3 separate regions of the Homo sapiens genome follow, and all the other regions are reported to be linked to region 2. Evidence: microRNA targets listed by miRTarBase, many of them from high-throughput screens and not tested one by one. Region 2 holds a microRNA gene; each other region holds the end of a gene's coding sequence.

Region 1 (7,000 bases), not on the chromosome of region 2:
AGTGAAAATCTGCTGTCTGCCTCATCTCATGGGTTTCTCTGCAGGATTGAGACCCCTTGCCTTGGTGTACACAAATTGCTTGCATCAGCTTGAGATCCCAGGACCTTTGCCAGGCCACGGGTAGGCATCTGTCTGGCTTGGGATGGGAGTTTCTTAGGACACTTATTCCCTCATCTTGCTTTCCTAACCCAGGAGTTGACGTCATTTTTAAAAGGAGTGAAATCTCAAAGAAAATTCTAATACATACCTTCTTTTTTTTTTTTTTTGTGACGGAGTCTCGCTCTGTCTCCCAGGCTGGAGTGCAGTGGTGCATCTTGGCTCACTGCAAGCTCTGCCTCCTGGGTTCACGCCATTCTCCTGCCTCAGCCTCCCCAGTAGCTGGGACTACAGGCGCCCGCCACCAGGCCCGGCTAATTTTTTTGTATTTTTAGTAGAGACAGGGTTTCACCGTGTTAGCCAGGATGGTCTCAATCTCCTGACCTCGTGATCTGCCCCACCTCGGCCTCCCAAAGTGCTGGGATTACAGGCATGAGCCACTGCACCCGGCCTCTGATACATATTTTCAAAGCCTTAATAATTTTCTGTCATGACTACTTCTACTGTGTCTATACATTTAGCATAATTTCAAAAGGACTAGATAAAATTTTTAATGTTAATCTGAAGGGGAAAAAAGGAGTAGAATTAGGAGCCAGAGTTGTTTAAATGTGGAATATGTTGTATAGTGGTCACATGGTACTGGTGGTAATAGTGGCAGAAATGGCAAAAGAGCCATTGGTTGATAAGGTTCAGGAGGGCCTAGGCTGTTCCTTTGTAAACTGTGCTCAGATATACTCTCTTGGCTGTCCTGGGACTCCTACAGGGCTTGAACATTTTGTATCAATTTCTGTTTTGAAGGTGCTGGGACTCTGGTGCCCCCAACCCTGGGCATCCTCAGGCTTTGAGGAGAATACACAGGATTTGAAGTCAGAAGACCTAGGTTTGAGTTCTGGCTGAGCCACGCACTGTTCATGTGACCTTGGACAAATCACCAAATTTTTCTGAACAGCATCTGTAAAGTGACAGTAACCCCTACCTCACAGGGTTGTTGTGAGGATTACATATATGCTAAAGCATTTTGCATATGAAAAAGCTTCTTATGAATATTGTTATTCCTAGGCAAACCCCCCTTGGAAGCTGTCAAAAAGGACAACTGTAGATGAAATTGTCTTCCTTTTTTCTTCATTCAGCTTAGCCTTTCTGTTTGGCCAGGGCTACTTACAGGGGCTGTTGGGGTTGAAGTCAAGTCACCGCATTTTGGCTCCTTTGGTCAAAGAGAAAGAACTCTAATGTCCAGCTGCTCCATCGATATACTCATAGAATGGAAGTGAGCAAAGGAAAATTTTAAGCCAGGATAGTTAACCGTTAGGGGGCCAGTGGGAGAATGCTTGCCTTGCATTTGCACATCCAGAATGACTAAAACATCTTAAGTAAATGAGGAATAGCCACCGAGATGCTCAGAGATAATATAAGCCATGAGTGGGAAGTGGGAAAATGAGTTTGTCAACGCCCTCTCTTTTCTATCCCTTTACCTTTGAGGTCAGGGACAGGGCATATTACTGACACCCCACTGGCTATTGCCCTATACCTGCCAATCACCCAAAGAAAATAATAGCTTCTGAGAAAGCTCAATTCACTGTAGCAACTGTGATATATTTACCCTAATAAAGCCACCACTTGGTCTTTTCCAGTGCTTCTCTCTTATGGAGATCATCCCTGGAATCCAAAGCTCTCCAGTTTTCTAACCCAGTTAAGAGTTAAAAACAACCACAGGTCATGAGCAGTAGGCTTGGCAGTTATACCCCATGCAGTCATAGGAGACTGCTCCATCATTCTCAGCACATAGGGTGCACATCTCACTATCTCTGGCATGAACCAGCCTTGCGAACTTATACAGTCTCAGCCACTCTGCTTTGATGGTAATTCTTCACCACTGATCTCTCCTCACCATGCCCTTCCTGCATCCTTCCCCCAACCACCCACCAGAGGAGTTCTGGTCCCCAAACCAAAGAGTTGCCTGCAGGTTGGTAATGTGACTTTGTAGATATTCCTTGATTAAAGCCAGACCCTATTGGTATCCTTTTTGAAGTACTGGATCGAAATCTAATTGCTTTTTTTTTTAATTGTTGGGGAGAGGAGGATGAGCAGAACTCCTATGCAGCCTGAGAGAAGTTCTCTATGTGTCTGTATATGTACACCTCTGTGTGTGTGTGTGTAACCTCATGGTTGTGCTCAGGCTGACAGGGAGGGCAAAGAGTGAAAAGGAAGCATCTCTTTCTTGTTATCCAACATTGCTTCAAAGATGCCCAACCCCCGTAGTAGCAGGCAGTTCCCAAGTGGAGGGTCGGGGCAGAGGCCTCCACCAAGGCCATCAATAACCAGGTGTGAGCTACAGGTCTCTGTGTAATGTGAAGCTCTCCCGTATTTCATTTCTGCACCCAGGGGGCGGCTCTGCAGGATTGCTTACGGAGAACTCTGTGTCTGGCACCTCTCTCCACAAGGCCCAGGCGCCCAGGGTCCCACCGACCTGCCCAGGAATGCATCACATTGTTCTCTGGTGCTGTAATTTGGCTGCAGGAGCTAGGCTGAATGCCTCCCAGGGATGAGAAACATACTCTCCCTGGCGTCCTCCCTTCGCCCCAGCTAGCTTGAGCTTCTGCCCTATGACCACTGAGTGCATTTAAATAAAAACCTCAGAAAGACTGAGGAAAAAAAAATCCTAATTATCTCTCTTCTGTTAAGCCATGTAGAGACTCGTGTCCTGAGTGGGTCTGAGAATTTGGCAAAGACTTACTGGTTGGTGTTCTTGATAAGGGAAGTGAGACAAAGGAGAAGAAATTACTCCCTGCAACAGGAGGAATAGAAATGAAGCAGTGAGTGTTCAGAAATTAGATCTACAAGAAGTTTTGCAAACAGACCCTCAGGGCCAGGCAATGTTTGTTTTTGTTTTTTGTTTTTTGTTTTTTTTTTTAATCTGAAGCCCCTGATTTTATTTTTCCAGCATCACTCTAAGGAAGAGTGTGGATTAGTGCCATTATTCAGGGCTGGTATTAATAAAAGTTAGCTTTTATCTGCAGGGCTAGGTTAAGGCTGGCATTCTTACTTTTACATTAAAAAAACTGGCTACAGGCTGCGCAGCTGAGGTACTTCAGTCATGTGCCTTCTCTAAAGGATTCTTAGATCCTTAAAATATATAGTATGTTTTAAGTTTGTATCTAAATAGCACTTACTGTAATGTATTATACCTAAATGTTTATTAAAAGTTAGAAGAAATGAGTACCAACAGGAAGGAATGGAAGAGAGGAGAGGGGCTAAGACATTGCTGATCTGAGGGACAGACCTCTATCAAATAGAAGAGGGCTGGGAGAAGGGGTGATTAGAAGCAGAGTGAGGGAACTAAATGGAGCCCTGACTGCACCAAATAAAGTTCTCATTTTGCTGCTTGTTCCAAATAAATTAGTGTCTATTTGTGTAATGCAGACTAAATGCCAGTTGTGTAAAGCCAATCAATGCAGAAGCAAGCTAAGAACTAGGAGGAAAAATTAATTGCTTGGCCATCATTCCTTTTGGGACCACATAACCTCCGTGGTGGGGCTCAAATGGACATCATTTCTCTCTTATGCACCTCTCTTTTCAAACTTCTCACTCTCTGGACAGCTTGCTCTTTTCTTAACCATTTATAGGAAATTGCAAAACTTGCATCTTTATGAGCTAGAATTTGGAGCCCAAGGAAAAGCACAGAGTAGCATGAGATGCCAGAAGAGGCCCATTTCCTTCCACAGGGATGAGAACCAAAAACCAAAGAATAGAGAGTAGGGTATAGGTAGATTTAAGTCAGGTTGACGTCCTATGGAAGGCATATGCCATTATTTATGTGGTAACCTGCATGTTCTTGTGAGAACAGGGGCTGGCCAGGACCTGAGGCTTTCCCCAGCAGCCTGGCATATAATATAAGGCAGCTTCCTTTGGTAAATTCATTCAGCCCTATTGTTGAGTTCAGACTGACCATGACCCCCTTACCTCTCCACTACCCCAAAGCTTTCCTCAAGATGTCAGCTGTTCTCTTCCCCTCCCATTTCCCCCTCCTTAATCCCACCATTGGCTCATCAGTTATCCAGTTGACTCCATTCTGAAGGAAGACATTCTCTTGGCCTGACTCACTCAGGCCCATTTCTCCACAGGCATCCCCTTACCGCAGACCACAAGGGCCCTGACTAGCTCATGTTTTGTGTTAATGGATGTGAAACCAGAGCAAATCCCCTCACCAAAAGAAAAACCACCCTAAACTCTCCCACACAGGTCTCAGCAGGTTACACAAATATTAGTCCTATCATCCAAATAAATCTGCCCCCGTGGCCCAGAGCTATGGCTCCCCCAACCTCCTGCTGCCTGTGCAGAGTGAAGCTGCTTCAAAAACATGAGGACCCCAAGGGATATTGGAGAGGAACTTTGGAAAGACAGGGGCCTGTATCCAGAATTCTTTATGCAGGCTCCTTAATCTACAGACTTTTGTTAATACTTTATAGTCCTAAAGAAGGACTGTTCCTAGAGAAGTCATGATGGGCTAGACCAGCCAGGGGCTTTGGTGAAGAGGATCTGCGGGCTGGAGTTTGGTGCATAATTAAAACTCAGCGTCTGACAGCTGGGCACAGTGGCTTGCGCTTGTACGCCCAGCACTTTGGAAGGCTGCAGTGGGAGGATTGCTTGAGACCAAGAATTCAAGACCAGCCTGGGCAACATAGTGAGCTCCATCTCTGAAAACTATGTTTAAATTAGCTGGGCATGATGGCATGGCCCTGTAGTCCCAGCTAATGGGGAGGCTGAGGTGGGAGGATTGCTTGAGCCTGGGAATTTGAGGCTGCAGTGAGCCATGATCATGCCAGTGCACTCCAGCCTGGGCAACAAAGCGAGACCCTATCTCTAAAAGAAATAAAAAGAAAGAAAAAAAAGAACAGGTACGTATCCTCATTTTACAGATGAGAAAATAGAAGCTCAGAAAATTTAGCTACCTTGCTCAAAATATCAAAGCAAATGGCACAGCTGTGATTTTTAACCCGGGTCTGTCATAACCGCAAATTTCTATACCACTCTGCTGCTTTAAGATATCAACAGGCAAAAGATAACCACTGTCCAACTCACATAAAAATAGGACATCAAGTTTTGGGGGACTTCATGTCCTACCTCCAGCTTACTAAGCCTGCTATCTCTGGAGATTCCACTACTGCAAACCTAGTTAGGCAATGGGTAATAGCATTACCCATTAAGCCAAATGTGGAGTGAACAATAATAATAATCACTAGGACTTGGAGAGTCACTAAATAAAGATTTGTTGAGTAAGTGGAGGAAGGCTGCCTTCTAAGCTGTGTATCACTTTGGCCCCAACCTGCAGTACTCCTTCCCACTGTAGCCACTGACTCCTGCTCCCAGCTTCAAAGGCTAGGATCCTCTCATAAAGAATTACCAAAGCCAGAGATCCCTACCTGCCTAATATATACTGATGCCTCATGTGGGCCCTTGAGATCAGACCTGCTTACCTGCTCTCCCACCATCCATGAGTTGCCTATCTTTCTTTTACTCCATGTCTCCCCAAACCTGGCAAACCTCCAGAATAGTGCATGGGAAGAGAAGAAAAGAAAAGAAAAAAAAAAAAAAAAAAAAGGCAACACAAGGCCTAGCCAGACTTACTACATTAATCTATCCTAGGAGTGTTCTAGGGTGTTTTAATGATTTGTTAAGCATGGGAACCACTGCATTCCACCTCAGTTTGAACAGGCAGCAAGTAAGCAAAAGAGGCAGTGCTGTCCAATACAGGTTGAGAATGGTAGAGAGAAAAAGAGAGAATGAATGTGTGTTTGTATTGTTATGATTCTTTTTCTTCTACAAAACACAGTTTATAAACATATGAGCATGTGAATGGAACCTTGTCCACTATGGCTAACATCTCAGGCTCTCAATAATAGAATGTGGTAGCCTAAGATTTTCTTTCGGGGTACCAGGTAGTTCTGCTCAAACGGACTTCAGAGAAGGGACATGCCATTCATCTTTGTCCCATCTAACTTTGGCCAGGTAGAAACAAAAAGAAGCTCTCTACAGGTACCCTTCCTCTTGCACACCAAGAAGTATCGGGAAGCTGGTGCAAAGGAAAGAAAAAAGGAGCCTCAACTACGTACTTTAGTGCAACTCATTTCACTCTAAAGACCCCCTATCTCTTCTACTCTCCCTTCAAATCTCCAGAGCGGGAAATCAGGGAGCTTGCTCAGTTTCTTATATCCCCTGACAACTCCTTCCCAGGGCTAAGGAACCAGCCAGGACACCATGGTCCCTATGGATTACTCTCTACATCCTTAAATAGAAGCGGTAGCAGCCCAGGGTGGAGGGTGGAGGAAGGTGTGCATGCAAGGATCTTGTGCTTTTGAGTTGAGAGGCTTGAATTGGAGGGATGAGTGAGGTATCTGTGTGTTCAGGTTTGGTCCAGCCACTCTGCCTTCTTGGGGGCTTTGCAAGTATGGACGTCCACAGTATTTCTGCATTCCTTGCACCGTACAGCACAGCACCAGTGGAATTTGCACTCACACTGGGTAACACGGGTGACTCGAGTTGTGTCGTACCCTCGGCCACAGCACATGATTTCACAACCGTCTGTTCCTTTTGATGTCTTGCTGCAGACACGGCCTGCAGTGCCTAGGGAACCTGGGTTGGGGAAGAGAGGGAGTGAGAACAAAGTTATCTCTTCAGCTGCCCTGGATACCCTTAACCACATTCTCAGAAGGAAGATAAAAAGAATCGCTTTTTTGGGCTGGGCACAGTGGCTCACTCATGCCTATCATCCCAGCATTTTGGAAGGCCAAGGCAGAAGGAATCCTTGAGTCCAGGAATTCAAGACCAGCCTGGGAAACATAGCAAGCCCTGTCTCTACAAAAACTTAAAAAATTAGCCAGGTGCCATGGGCATGAGCCTGTAGTCC
Region 2 (8,281 bases):
ATTTGGAAGCACTTTTGATGTTCAATTTTAAGCAGCTGTCTTCTTCTTAAAGCCTTTCAGTCTTAACAATACAGCAGAAACAGAAAGCAGAATAAGTAGAAATTTCCTAGCTGACAAAATGTATGAGTTAGAATCGTGTAATTTTCCAAATTGTAAATGCATGTAATATTTTTTTTGCCACCACACCAATCCTGAAACGATTCCTTATCTGAAAAAAGAATATTTTTATTAGTCCTATAATTCTAAGATTTCTTAATCAAAAACCGTTATGCTAGATGTTTCAAATCCAGGCCCCGTATAGCATAAATAAACTTCATTTCTATTCAAACCATTTTAATTTAACAAAATAATTTTTATTTTATTATAATTACTTAATTTTGAACTGAATTCTGAATGCACAATTTAATTACTACCAAATGTGTTTTGTGCTTTAGAGAAAATAATAGAGAATTTTGACCTGCTTTAGGATAATAAAGAAGTCAAAACTGAGAACCTCTCAAGGCTTTTCTCATAGTAGCAGTTTATTTTCCTTAAGTGGCATCTCTATTCTATCACAAAGTCATTTATTGACATATGAATTTGGGTTTGTTCTCATAGCTTGTAGACATTTTCTCTTTCTCATTCCAAGAAAGGAGACAAACTTCTGTATTCTGAGTTCTGAGCAACATTTTTCAGAGAATGGTAGTTTTTAGCTGATTTTGTGTTGCCATGGAAGGAAAATTGTAGAATGCAAGATATTGAAAAAACCTGAAACTGAAGCTTTGCTGAGAAGAGCAGATATATTATTGTAAAACATGCATAACCAAAGACTCAAAAGAACAAAACTCTGAAACTCTGAGATGACCGAGACACAGTTTCTGCTCTCAAATAGCTCACCAGTCTATTAGAGTAACCTGTAAAACTAGTCAGTGCCAATGTTAAGCAATGTAATGAAGGTATGGAGAATGTACCCTAATTTGGCACTTAACCTGGACTGGGGGTAACAAGGAAGGCTTTTGGGAGAGGTGATGGTTGAGAGGTTTTGTTTTTGTTGTTGTTGTTGTTGTTGTTTTGGTTTTGTTTGTTTGCTTGTTCATTTTTGAGACAAGGTTTACTCTGTTGCCCAGGCTGGAGTGCAGTGGTGCAATCATAGCTCACTATAACCTCAAACTCCTGGGCTATAGCAATCTCCCCACCTCAGCCTCCTGAGTAGCTAGGACTACAGGCACATTCCATCATGCTCAGCTAATTTTTTAATTTTAATTTTTTGTAGAGATAGGGCCTCACTGTGTTGCTCAGGCTGAACTCAAACTACTGGCCTCACACAATCCTCCTGCCTTAGCCTCTCAAAGCATTAGGATTACAGGCATGAGTCACCGTGCCTGGCTAACTTGTGAGTGTCTATGTAAGAGATATCCAGGCAGAGAAGGGCATTCAAGAAAGTAAGAATAGCATGTGCAAACACACAGAGGCAAGACAGAGCATGGCATCTTCAATGAACTGCAAATAATTCTAAATAACTGGAGCATAGGCTGCAGTGGGGTAGGGTACCTAGGGTACGGTAGTGGGGTACCCTAGGTGGAGTAGTGATTGAAAAGACATTAAAATATTTTTAGTAGAGAAATGATGTGATTATATTTACATATCTTTTTAAGAAAGATTGTTCTGATTGTACTGTGTTAAAAGGATTATAGGGAACCAAAAGTGGAGGCAAGCAAAGCAGACCAGTTAGCAAGCTATTCTAGGGGTCAAGCTGAGTGATGATAATGTCTTGGACCAGAGAGTTGGGATGGAAATAGGGAGACATATTCAAGAAAAATTTCAGAAGTAGAAATCACAAGGATTTGTTACCAAAAATTGATACAGGGTAGGGAAAGATACAAAGAATGACAGGATGATTCCTAGGATTCTGGTTCTGGTCAATAGGTTGGCTTCAGGTGGGTGTCATTTATTAAAAAATAAGGAGTAACTGAAGGAAGAGAAAATCTGAGAGTAGGAAGCTGTGAGATGTTGCTTTCTATTTTGGATGAGTTAAGTGTGAGTGTTCCCCAGGGACATTTAAGTGGAGATGTTCCATAGACAGTAAAATATGAGTCCTGAGCAAAGAGAGGATACCTGAAGCCATGGGAGAAGATGCAATTACCCCGGGAGAGTGTGTAGATTGAGAAGAGGGCATAGGGAAGAAGAACAGAGATGAAGAGATCTAACATTATGTATAATTGTCACCCTTCTAATTCCTTGTTTGTAGAGTGGGCTGATTTCTGGATTTGTAGGTTAGCCATGGCACTTAAAATTATCTTGGGAAAATATGACTTTTGAAACACTGGTTCTGGTGTAGGCCTGTTACTTACCCAATGAATAATCATATAGGGATTTCAAAAAACTTTCACACATGGTGTCCTATTGTATATTAATACACAATAGTTCCAAGAGACTTAAACACATAACCCTTCACATTAAAATACACATAAAATCTAAATTAAAAGCATTAACTCATTATAGGAAAGATTAAAATGTATGTTTTTACAATGATAAAATTAATAAGACTTATTTTTGATATATGTTAAATGTAAAAAGTATTAGCAAAATGTATCTGTCAATGGATGAGTGGATAAAGATAATGTGGTATATATGTACAATGGAATACTATTTGGCCTTAAAACAGAGGAAATTTTGTCATTTTCAACAACATGTATGAACCTGGAGGACATTATGCTAAGTGAAATGAGCCAGGCACAGAAAGACATATATTGCATGATTCCACTTATATGTGGAATCTAAAGAAGTCAAACTCATAGAAGTAAAAGAGTAGAATGGTGGTTGCCAGGGCCTCAGGAGGTGGGTGAGAGGGGAATGGAGACATGTTGGTGAGAGGGTACAAAGTTTCAGTTAGATAGGAGGACTAAGTTCTTGAGATCTAATGCACAGAATGGCGACAACCGTTATTAATAACATAATGAATATTTCAAAATTGCTAAGAGAATAGATTTTAAATGCTGGCACCATGATATGGTTTGACTGTGTCCCCACAGAGATAATTGAATCATGGGGGCGGTTTCCCTCATCCTGTTCTCCTGATAATGACTTAGTTCTCACGAGATCCGATGGTTTTATAAGGGGATTCCCTGTTCACTGGGCACTCATTTCATTCTCCTTCCTGCAGCCCTGTGAAGAAGGACGTGTTTGCTTCCCCTTTCACCACAACTGTGAGTTTCCTGAGGCCTCCCCAGCCATGCTAAACTGTGAGTCAATTAAACCTCTTTCCTTTATAATTACCCGGTCTTGCATAGTATCTTTGCAGCAACATGAGAATGGACTAATACACACCACAAAAAAAAAAGTTAAGATGAGGTGACAAATATAGGAATCAGCTTGATTTCAACATTGCATAATGTGTGCATATATCAAAACATCACATTGTACTCCGTAAATATATATAATTATTTTTCAATTAAAAATTTTCTAATTAACAAAATAAAAATCACTTCAAATCCTACCTTGAGTTTACTACTTTAATATGTTTCCTATAAGCCTCATTTCCATCAAGTATTTTTTCTTTGCTCATGTGTATGTGAACAAAATCAGGAGATATATACTAATAATTTTTTATTCTGATTTTTTGTATTTAACATTAAAGTATGTACATTGTCATTTTGATTGGCTTTCTTTGATTTGCTTACAGGGAACAATTTGGAAAACAGCACTTACGGACTGTAAAGACTTTTTCCAGGAACAAACAAGACAAGAACTTTGTGCTAATATATTACAATGAACCTAGAAACATTTTTCATATCACCAAAGGAAATTGCAACTGGGGGCAAAGAATACTCAGTATTGGCTACTTTCATGTCACATAATCACTCTTATCTGCATGTGAGACAGCGTCCATAGTAGATGAAGGCAAGGGAGAAGTGGATTCTGAATGGCTTTTGAGTAGTAAATATTCAGTGTCTGTCATATTAGCTCACATGACCTCACAGGCCTTCACTAAAAAAGTGTTTAAGATTTTAAAATACTGGGCCATTGCATTGTCATCTTTATTTATGAACTGTAAGCCTGTCACTTGGGAGCATTTTCAATGAAAACTTCTCATACCTTCAATAAGTTACCCTTCAGTGACTGTTTTTGTTATTGCTTTGTTTTGAAAATTATTTGGGGATAAGGACTACCATTAAATTTTTTCTGTGGTGGGTGTGTTATGTAAAATTAAAGGGTTTAATGCAGTTTATCTCAGTTGGTTTAACTCAACATAGATTGAATCCCTACCAATTGACAAGAACTGTGCAGATCAATCTAGAAATGTACAGTCTAATGTCATTGAGGAGTGCCAAATGATATATTTTCCAAGTAATATAGAGACCACATAGCTTCTAACCTCATTCCACTCACTGAAAATGATGGCTCTAATAATAAAAATTTTCAGGGGTAGACCACTGAAGTTTAGCAACTCCCTAGATTTGGCAGCAGACAGGAAACTGAGAGGGGCACACATTACACTTGAGTTACTTAATTGAAACCTTGCTCCTCCTCCTCCCTCTTCTCCTCCTTTTCTTTTTTCATCCTTTCTCTACACTCTCCCCTTTTTGCTTCTTCTTCTCTATAGAGACCTTGGTTCTAGTGCTTTACTCTCATGTAAAAGTTTGGGAAACTCAAATTTATTTATTAGAACATTATTATTCCAAACACATTTGAGAACATCAAGTTTCTCCCCCAAAATGATAATTCTATTACTTCAAAAATGAACAAGAGAGAAGAAGAGGGGGAGGGAAGAGAGAGAGAGAGAGAGAGAGAGAGAATGTCTGAACATATAGTGGATTAGAATAACTATTTATTTGGAGGAAAAAAGTAGAGTAACGTAATTAAACCCTGAATAATATTTACTGATAGTTTTGTTATATAAATGTTTAAAAATAGAGCCGTGATACCTATTTGGGATTAACAGTAGTTCCAAAGGTAAGAATATATAGACTAATAACATAAATTTCACAAATTGTTGCATTGTGACATTAATAATATATTTCTAAATGGGAACAATTATCAACCACCGATAAACAGTCAAAACAAAGAACCCCAATTTATTCAGAGATGTGTAAAGCTGGGCACACCTCATTCATAGATTTTTTATTTTTAGAATTCTCGACATATTAAATTTTTCTGAGGAAAAAATGTATATTCATTTATTCATACTCATTTTTGAACTAACATTTATTTAAGGTCCACAATATGCTAGATATTTTATATTATTTTTTGATTACTTAATGCAAATATAGCAACATTATGAAGCAAGTATTATTATCCCTGTTTTACAAATAAGGAAATAAACTCAGGGAGGTGAATGTGATCAAAGATAGATATATAGTTAAGAAAGTTAAAGAGACAGGATTCAAGCCTAAGTCTGTCTGACTTCAAATCTCTCTTCTTCCCACTATTTATTGCTCCCTATGAGTTTATATTAATGAAATCTAAAATCCCACTTAAAACCGTATAATGAAGAAATTAAGAAAACCACCTGAGATAGTGATATAATTTTTCTAATCACTAAATATTTTTTTCTTAGCTCTTCTTGTGGAACAATATACAATATGATTCTTGGGATTGGTTGAGCATGTCTGCCTTATTCTAACTCAAATTTATTTAAGATATGTGTTTTATAGTATTCTGCTACTGGAAATATTACAAATACAGTAATAAAATATATCATTTATTAAGTAAAATAATAAGGAACATGAGTAAAACATTTTGCCTATATTATGCCAGCAGCTATGCTATGCACTGGCAACACACACAGGCTTACAATGAACCCAGAGGTGGGAGCATCTATGTCACCAGGAGAAATTTAAGGATGATTTAACATTTAAAAACTATTAATATGGTTTATTACATTAATAGATGAAAGGAGTGAAAAACATGATCAGTGCTTAGCCCATAGTAGGCAGTCAATAAATAGATGCGGAAAAGGCTTTGGTCAAAATTCTAGACCCATTCATGATAAAAGCTCCTTAGCAAACTAGAAATAGAAGTCAGCTCCCTTAACTTAATAAAACCTACAATAAACATACACTAACGGTGAACTGTTTTAACCTTACCTTTTTCACAGCCAGGAAAATTAGAAGTATGTCTAGTATCACCACTTCTGTTTAGCATTGTATTGGAGGTCCTTGGCAGTTCAGTAAGACAAGATAAAGAGTTAAAATGTATAGGATTGAAAAGGAAAAATAAAACTGTCATTGATCACAGATTATATAATTATCAACATAGAAAACTAAAAAGAATTATAGATATATTATTAGTAAGAGAGTTTAGCAAGGTTATTAGCTACAAGATCAACATATAACGTTAATTTTTTTCCTATACATCAACAGCAAATTATTATAAAAGAAAAGTTTAAGAAACAGTATATGATGCCTTGGAATACATAAAAGATGGTCAAGACTTTTTAATTAGTCAGGTAATGTTCGCTATGCTGTGGTAACACATAATCCCTGAAATAGCCATGTTGTAACACAACACCAATTTATTTCTTGCTCCAGTTACAGTTAATGTGAGTCAGGTGGCTCTCTGGCACAGCTTCCCTTTAAGAGCTGACTCAAGATTCCTGGAAGCTTCCAAACTGTGGCAATGCCATCTGGACTACTAGTTAGTTATAGAAAGGAGAAAAAGGAATGCAAGAGGCAAACTGGCTCTTAACTGCCCAGCTACCTGAACTTATCTTCAAAGTAGAGTGGGAAATGCGGATCTGAACATGGATATTTGGTGGACACTATCAGTGTCTGCCAAAAGGTATAATATTATTTAGAAAACATAGTAAAAAATTAAATAAAATGAGTGATATACCCTCCCATTCATGGATGGGAAAGTGAAGTAATATTGAATGCAATTCCAATCAAACTTGCAACAAGGATTTGCGTGTGTATGTGTGTGGAACTTGACAAAATGATTCCGAAATGTATATGAAAGAGCAAAGGGCCAAGCATAACTAAGACAAAAAAAAAAATGAGGCAGAAAGGCTGACTCTACCAGGTATCAATACGTGTTCGAAAGTTACAGTAATTAAAATAACATCATCTTAGTATAGGAATTGACAAAATAGCAATAACATTGAATATAGTCCAGAAACAGATTTCATGTATAAGAATTTAATAATTGATAATGGTAATATTTCAGATTAGTGTGAAAAAGATGATCTCAAAAAATGGCATGAGGAAAATTGGATATTCATATATGAAATTTTATGTTAGATTTCTATCTCACATAAATCCCCCAAATAAATTTCAGGTCAGTTAAAGAGCTAAAAGTTTTCTTTTTTTTTTTTTTAAAGGTATTGTATTAGGGTTCTATAAAGCAACAGAACTATTAGCATATATGCATATGTATATGAAGGGGAGTTTATTAGGAAAATTGATTCACACGATCACAAGGTGCAGTTCCACAATAGGCCATCTGCAAGTTGAGGAGCAAGGAAGTCAGTCGGAGTCCCAAAACCTCAAAAGTAGGGAAGCCGATAGTGCAGCCTTTGGTCTGTGGCCAAAGGCCTGAGAGCCACAAATCACTGGTGTAAGTCCAAGAGCCCAAAAGCTGAAGAACTTGGAGTCTGATGTTCGAGGGCAGGAAGCATCCAGCACAGGAGAAAGATGAAGGCCAGAAGACTCAGCAAGTCTCCTCATTCCACTTTCTTCTGCCTGCTTTATTCTAGCCATGCTGGCAGCTGATTAGATGGTGCCCACCCAGATTGAGGGTGGGTCTGCCTCTCCCAGTCCACTGACTCAAATGTTATTCTCCTTTGGCAACACTCTCACAGACAAACCCAGAAATAATACTCTGCATCCTTCAATCTAATCAAGTTGACACTCAATATTAACCATCACAGGTGTTTTAGCAACATGTGGGACATATTTTCCTACTAATGAATTGAGAAAGACTCTTCTAAACAAGATGCAAAGTCCAGAGCCATAAAAGAAAATATTAAGTGAATTGTCTATATCAAAATTTAAAATTTCTAGGTAATGAATCACACCATAAAAGTTAAAATCTAGAATGAAAAAAAGATTTGCAATATGTGTAATGAAGTATTAATATGAAAATATAAAAAGAATTTTTGCAAGTTATAATAGTGGCAAGGGCATAAACTGAGAAATCATAGAAGAGGTAACTGAAAATTGGCATTGAACATATGTTTCGATGTATAAGGAGGGAAATGCATAGTATAACAATATGATACCATATTTTTTAGCTCATTAGATTGGCAGACATTTAAAAAGTAATAATATCTAGTATCAGTGAGTGGAAATCAGCTTTTTTAAAG
Region 3 (7,000 bases), not on the chromosome of region 2:
CTAGAACTACAGGAATGCATCACCATGGTTGGTTATTTTTTATTTTTTGGCCAGGTGTGGTAGCTCATGCCTGTAATCCCAGCACTTTGGGACCAGCCTGAGGAGCCACAGGAGTTCGGGACCACCTTGAGCTGGTCTCACACAGTGAGACGCCGTCCCTACAAAAATTAAAAAAATTAGCTGGGCATAGTGGCACGTGCCTGTAATTCCAGCTACTTGGGAGGCCGAAATGGGAGGATCACTTGGGCCCAGGAGGTTGACATTGCAGTGAGCCGTGATGGCACTATTGCACTCCAAGCCTAAGCAACAGAGTGAGACCTTGTTTCAATATTTATTTTGTAGAGACAAAGTCTCACTAAGTTGACCAGGCTGGTCTTGAACTCCTGGCCTCAGGTGATCTTCCTGCCTTGGCCTCCCAGAGTGGTGGGATTACAGGCATGAGCTACCATGCCTGGTCTCATTGTGGTTTTAAATAGTTGCAAAGGACATAATTTCTAGTGTATCATATACTGACATTTCAAAATAAATCCATTATATCACTGTTTCAAATGTATCCAATGAAATGTAAATACTACAGTGATTAGATACTTCACCTTTATCCATTAAAACATGACAAGATTTTACATCAGAAATTATATTTCCATTCTACTCCCTCACAGAATTTATCCTAATATGTTTTTATGCCTGAAAGTCTTTTATTGACCATTTATCACATTTCTCTGCAAGAAAAGTAACTCAAAAAATTTAATTTTTTGTTTGTTTGAGATGGAGTCTCACTCTGTCGCCCCGGCTGAAGTGCAGTGGCACGATCTTGGCTCACTGCAACCTCTGCTTCCTGGGTTCAAGCGATTCTCCTGCCTCAGCCTTCCAAGTAGCTGGGATTACAGGCGCCCGCCACCACCCAGCTACTTTTTTTTTTTTTTTTTTTTAGTAGACATGGGGTTTCACCATGTTGGCCAGGCTGGTCTCGAACTCCTGACCTAGTGATTCGCCTGCCTCGGCCTCCCAAAGTGCTGGGATTACAGGCGTGAGCCACCGTGCCCAGCCAAAAAATTTAATTTTTTATAGTTTCTGGGCCCAGTGTGGTGGCTCACACCTGCAATTCCAGTCCTTTGGGAGACCATGGCAGGAGGATCACTTGAGCCCAGGAGTTCTAGACCAGCCTGAGTAACATGGTGAAACCTTATCTATACAAAATATACACAAATTAGCCAAAGATGGTGGCACCCACCCAGCTACTCAGGAGGCTGAGATGGGAAGATCACTTGAGCCCAGGAATTTGAGGTTGCAGTGAGCAGTGATCACACCACTGCATTCCACACCACTGCACTCCAGCCTGGGCAACAGAGCAAGACTGTCTCAAAAAATAAAAATAAATAAAATAAATAAAATAGAAATGTCCTGTGACCATAAAGCCCTAAGAGTTAATTTTTTTCCTATGGATTCTATTTTCATTGTAACTGTTAGTAGTCTAAAATATATTATTAGTACATGAATACCTTAGTTTTTGGGGTTTTTGAGACAGGGTCACTTTCTGTCAGGAAAGTGAAACAGTCTTATTACTGACATGGAGAAAGTTTTAGTGGTCTGGGTAGAAGATTAAAGCAGCCACAACATTCTCTTAAATCAAAGCCTAATCCGGTGGCATGATTGCAGCTCACTGCAGCCTTGACCTCCCTGGTTCAAGTGATCCTCCTCTCGCTGAGCTGGGACTACAGGTGCAGGCCACGAAGTTTGGCTAATTTTTAAATTTTTTGTAGAGACAGGGGTCTCACTATGTTGCCCAGGCTGGTCTTAAACTCCTGGGCTCAAGTGATCCTTCTGTCTTTGCCTAAAGTGCTGGGATTACAGAAGTGAACCGCTGCACCTGTCCAGGAAAAGTTCTTAAAGGAAATTAAAAGGTACTACACTTCAGTGAACACATGAATGATACAAAAGTGAAATAGCCTTATTGCTGATATCAAGAAAGTGTTAGTGGTCTGGATAGAAGATCAAAGCAGCCACAACATTCCCTTAAACCAAAGCCTAATCTGGAGCAAGGCCCCAACTCTTTTTTTTTTTTTTTTTAAGAGACAGTGTCTTGCGTTGTTGCCCAGCCTGGAGTGCAGTGGCATGATCATGTCTTACTGCAGTCTCAAACTCCTGAGCTCAAGCAATCCTCCTGCTCTGCCTCCTAAGTAGCTGGGACTACATGTGCATGCCAACACTCACTATGTTGCCCACACTGGTCTCCAACCCTTGGCCTCAAGTGATCCTTCCATCTTGGCCTCCCAAAGTGCTGGGATTATAGGTGTGAGCTACTGAGCCCAGCCTATTCTCTTCAATACTATAAAGACTGAGAGTGGTGAGGAGGCTAGGAGAGGTTGGTTCATAATGCTCAAGGAAAGAAGCCACCTCCATAACATAAAAATGCAAGGTGAAGCAGCAAGTGCTGATATAGAATCTGCAGAAAGTTATCCAGAAGATCTAGCTAAGATCATTGATGAAGGTGGCTACACTAAATTACAGATTTTCAAAGCAAACAAAACAGCCTTCTATTGGAAGAAGATGCCACATAGAAGTTTCACAGCTAGAGAGAAGTCAAGGCCTGGCTACAGAGCTTCAAAGGACAGACTAACTCTTTTTATTAGGAGATAATGCACCTGGTAACTTTAAGTTGAAACCAATCCTCATTTACCATTCTGAAAATCCTAGGGCCTTAGGAATTATGCTAAATGTATTCTGCTGTGCTCTATAAATAAAACAACAAAACCTGCATGACAGCACATATGTTTGCAGCATGGGTTACAGAATATTTTAAGCTCACTGTTAAGATCTACTCCTCAGAAATAAAGATTCCTTTCAAAATATTACTGCTCATTGACAATGCACCTGGTCACCTACAAACTCTGGAGATGTACAGGGAGATTAATGTTTTCATGCCTGCTAACACAACATCCATTCTGTAGCCCATGGATCAAGGAGTAATTTTGACTTGCAAGTCTTACTTTTTTTTTTTTTTTTTTTTTTGAGACTGAGTCTTGCTCTGTCGCCCAGGCTGCAGTGCGGTGGCGCGATCTCGGCTCACTGCAACCTCCGCCTCCCAGGTTCATGCCATTCTCCTGCCTCAGCCTCCTGAGCAGCTGGGACTACAGGTGCCCACCACCACGCCCAGCTATTTTTTTGTATTTTTAGTGGAGACGGGGTTTCATTGTGTTAGCCAGGATGGTCTCGATCTCCTGACCTCGTGATCCACCCGCCTCGGCCTCCCAAAGTGCTGGGATTACAGGTGTCAGCCACTGCACCCGGCCAAGTCTTACTCTTTAAGAAATACATTTCGAACCCCGTCTCTACAAAAAATAACAAAAACGAGCTGGATGTGGGTGGTGTGTGCTGGTAGTCCCAGCTACTTGGGAGGCTGAAGTGGGAGGATCGCTTGAGTCCAGGGGGAGGCAGAGGTTTCAGTGAGCTGAGTGCACCACTGCGCCTGAGCGACAGAGCAAGACCCTATATCAAGCAAAAAAAAAAAAAAGAAAAAAAAAAACATTTCGTAAGACTGCAGCTGCCATAGTGATTCCTCTGATAGCTGTCGACAAAGTCAACTGAAAACCTTCTGGAAAGGATTCACCATTCCAGATGCCATTAAGAACATTCATGGCTAGGCACAGTGGCTTATGCCTATAATCCCAGCATTTTGGGGGGCTGAAGTGGGAGGATCGCTTGAGCCCAGGAGTTTGAGAACAGCTTGTGCAACAGGACGAAACCCCATCTCTACAGAAAACACAAAAATTAGCCAGGTGTAGTGGTGGGCATCTGTAGTCTCAGCTACTCAGGTGGCTGAGGTGGAGGACTGCTTGAGCCAGGAGAGGTCCAGGCTGCAGTGAGCTGAGATCATGCCACTGCACTCCAGCTTGGGTGACAGAGTGAGACCCCGTCTCAAAAAAAAAAAAACAAAACAAAACAAAATTTTTTTTTTCCCCAGAGTCTCACCCTGTGGCTCAGGCTGGAGTGCAGTGGTGCGATCTCAGCTCACTGCAACCTCCGCCTCCCAGGTTCAAGCGATACTCCTGCCTCAGCCTCCTGAGTAGCTGGGACTACAGGCGCCTGCCACCACACCTGGCTAATTTTTGTATTTTTAGTAGAGACGAGGTTTCACCATGTTGGCTAGGCTGGTCTTGAACTCCTGACCTCAGGTGATCCACTGCCTCGGCCTCCCAAAGTGCTGAGATTACGGGCATGAGCCACTGTGCCCAGCCTAAAAACAACATAACTTTTATATGCACTGGGAAACCAACAAAATTGACTCGCCTTATGCAATATTCACTTTATTACAGTGGTCTGGAAATGAACTCACAATATCTCCTAGGTATGCCTGTACAACAAACATTTTACATTACTTCGATAACATAAAATTATATTGTAAATGCATCTCTTACTGAGAATGGTCGGTCTGTGGGGCTTTGATCTAATGAAGCTATAAGGATACTAACAATTTGAATTTCTCTCTTAATTTGGTGCCCTGGAAGTAACACAGGTTCTGGGTGAGATGGGTAGCACCTTAGGTAACTTTATCACTTGGCAGACGGGGAATGAAAAGCGTGGATGGGAAAGGAGATCTGGCACGGGAGTTTCACACTAGGTAGATCAATTTGAGGAATGAGAACACAGAAGCCAAGGATCTGAACATTTATTTATTTATTATTTATTTTTGAGACAGGGTCTCACTCTGTCACCTAGGCTGGAGTACATTGGCACAATCACGGCTCACCGCAGCCTTGACCTCCTGGCCTTAGGTGATCCTCCCACCTCAGCCTCCTGAGTAGCTAGGACTACAGGCATGCGTCACCACATCTGGCTAATTTTTTTTTTGAGACAGAGTTTTGCTCTCGTTGCCCAAGCTTGAGTGTAATGGCATGGTCTTGGCTCACTGCACTCAGCTCACCTCTGCTCCCAAGTTCAAGCGATTCTCCTGCCTCAGCCTCTCAAGTAGCTGAGATTACAGGCACCCGCCACCATATCCGGCTAGTTTTTTTGTATTTTTAGTAGAGATTGGGTTCCACCATGTTGGCCAGGCTGGTCTCAAACACCTGACTTCAGGTGATCCACCTATCTCGGCCTCCCAAAATGCCGGGATTACAGGTGTGAACCACCGTGCCCGGCCTACTTTTTGTATTTTTTGTAGAGATGGGGTTTTGCCATGTTGCCCAGGCTGGTCTCAAACTCCTGGGCTCAAGCGATCCATCAGCTTTGGCTTCCCAAAGTGCTAGGATTACAGGCATGAGCCACCACACCTAGCTTGTTTATTCTTTTAAAACTGCCTATTTTGCCATGAAATAGGTACCCTTGCTGTGAAAGCCTGTGAACACCCCTGGATGTGTGTACCTTCATTTAAAAACTGCCTTAGAGGGCATGAAATGTCATCAGGGAAGATCTATTCCGAGCTGGGTGTGAGCTCTAGCCCTCTCCCTGACCATCGGTTTGCTCTGGGGTATGAGGTTCTGAGTGTGAGGCGCCCACTGGGGCCTGGCGTCAGGGCCGACTTGCTTCTCTTAGGCTCTGCGTTCAGGGGCTACCTCTTCCAAAGACTACACAGCTGCAGGCCCAGCCTCAGAGCAGAGGTGATATGGGTATTACCAGGCTCTAATGGAAAGTGTGCTCTCTCGATATCTACTTGCAGGGAAGCTTCTGAAATTGGTAAGGGAGCACCTATTGCAAGGCTCAGTGAACAAATGGTTTTGGTATTTCCCTTTTTCATGGGGCACCAGAAGGGTATTTTCTCCTACACAGGATCGCATCTGAAGACTTTGCTGAACTGTGTTTTCCTGAAGTGAGGAGATGAAAGACCTCAGATAGGAAAAACAGAGAGTGAGAGAGAGAGACAGACACTGAGCCAGGTTCCCACACAGTTTATTGAGGGAGCCAAAGCCAGTGAGAGGACGAAGGAGTCCTACTTCAACCTACTTCCTTAAAGCTGTGTGCCTCCAGCATGAAGGGACCTTCCCAGAGGGCAGGGCCTGCCCTATAAGGGGCCACATGAAGCCTTGTGGAGACTCCTGCCTCTCATACCACAGCCTGTCCTACCCTAAAGACCCAGACATGACAGCAGACATAATCCCCACCCCAGGAGGGTGCTGAGGAAACACCCTTACCCATGCCCCTCCCCTAGAGACCTCAGGAAGAAAGGCCAGGACACCTGTCCTGTGATTGGCCAGTTGAATCCTCAACGTGAAGACCTGGCAGGCCTGGCTGACAGGTCTGTTCAGATGTGGCCTCAGGCATCTACTCTAGGATCCAACCCCTAACATTCAAACATGATTAAAAACACCCAGGACACTTCTCTTGCTGGCAGAGGCCACACCCCAGATAATGGCAGTCCTGCCAAACTCTGGCCAGAGATAGGGACCCAAGCTGACTGGGTGTGAGCACGTAAGGAGACCACTCTGCCCCATGGGGAGAATCTTCCAGGGCTCAGCTGAGGCTCAGAGCCCAGGCTTATGTTATTCCCCATCAAATGCCAGTGATTCCTCCAAACATTCCCCACAAGGGAGAAAGGGAGGAGGAGGCAGAGAGCTTATCAAGAGGTTCACCCTATATGGGGCTGGAGGTTGGATCTACTGGGGTGAGGAAAAGGGTGTAGAGGATTGGGGCACTGGGGCAGGGGCGCTGGCACATTCCTCAGATTCTGGCATGTCATCCTGGAAGTACTCAGCCTGGCGGTACTGCCACAGACGCAGGTTCCCGTCCCACTGCAGGGCAGAGGGTGGCAAGCAGTCAGGATGTGCTGCCCCCACCCAAGTCCAAGCCCCAGACATGTGCCAGCACCCTCAACCCTTGCAACCTCACCGAACTGCTGACAATCTTCTCTTCAAAGGGGTGCCAACTGACGTCACGCACACAGGCCTTGTGGTTGGTCAGCTTCTTCACAATGTGGCCACTTAGAAGGTCGTACACTGTCCAGGACAGGCAAGAGTGGAGAGGGACCACCACAAGACATCTAAACTATCCCTCACCTCCCCATGAG

Evidence for each region. The annotated mature microRNA hsa-miR-1321 reads CAGGGAGGUGAAUGUGAU and lies in region 2 at 5,304-5,321, shown strand. An mRNA with a match to its seed (bases 2 to 7 or 8) in the 3' UTR can be bound and repressed. Matches are read on the target gene's strand: a 7mer-m8 pairs with bases 2 to 8, a 7mer-A1 pairs with bases 2 to 7 and ends in A, and an 8mer does both.
Region 1: miRTarBase lists ST7L as a target of hsa-miR-1321. Seed matches in the 3' UTR shown: 7mer-m8 at 2,664-2,670.
Region 3: the mRNA of DCAF11 is a reported target of hsa-miR-1321. Seed matches in the 3' UTR shown: 7mer-m8 at 6,530-6,536.

Annotation. Positions count from the first base shown.
Region 1 is chr1:112,520,006-112,527,005 of GRCh38, reverse strand. It overlaps ST7L (suppression of tumorigenicity 7 like), which reads left to right. Exons shown (of 15, transcript NM_017744.5): 15 at 895-3,492. The coding sequence ends at 993. WNT2B (Wnt family member 2B) reads right to left here. Exons shown (of 5, transcript NM_024494.3): 5 at 1-6,726. The coding sequence ends at 6,497. Among named protein-coding and RNA genes, the nearest start is that of WNT2B, 15 kb to the right of the region's middle.
Region 2 is chrX:85,830,529-85,838,809 of GRCh38, forward strand. MIR1321 (microRNA 1321) reads left to right here and starts at 5,252; the gene lies at 5,252-5,330.
Region 3 is chr14:24,122,900-24,129,899 of GRCh38, reverse strand. It overlaps DCAF11 (DDB1 and CUL4 associated factor 11), which reads right to left. Exons shown (of 15, transcript NM_025230.5): 14 at 6,823-6,929; 15 at 4,658-6,725. The coding sequence ends at 6,591. Among named protein-coding and RNA genes, the nearest start is that of FITM1, 4.3 kb to the left of the region's middle.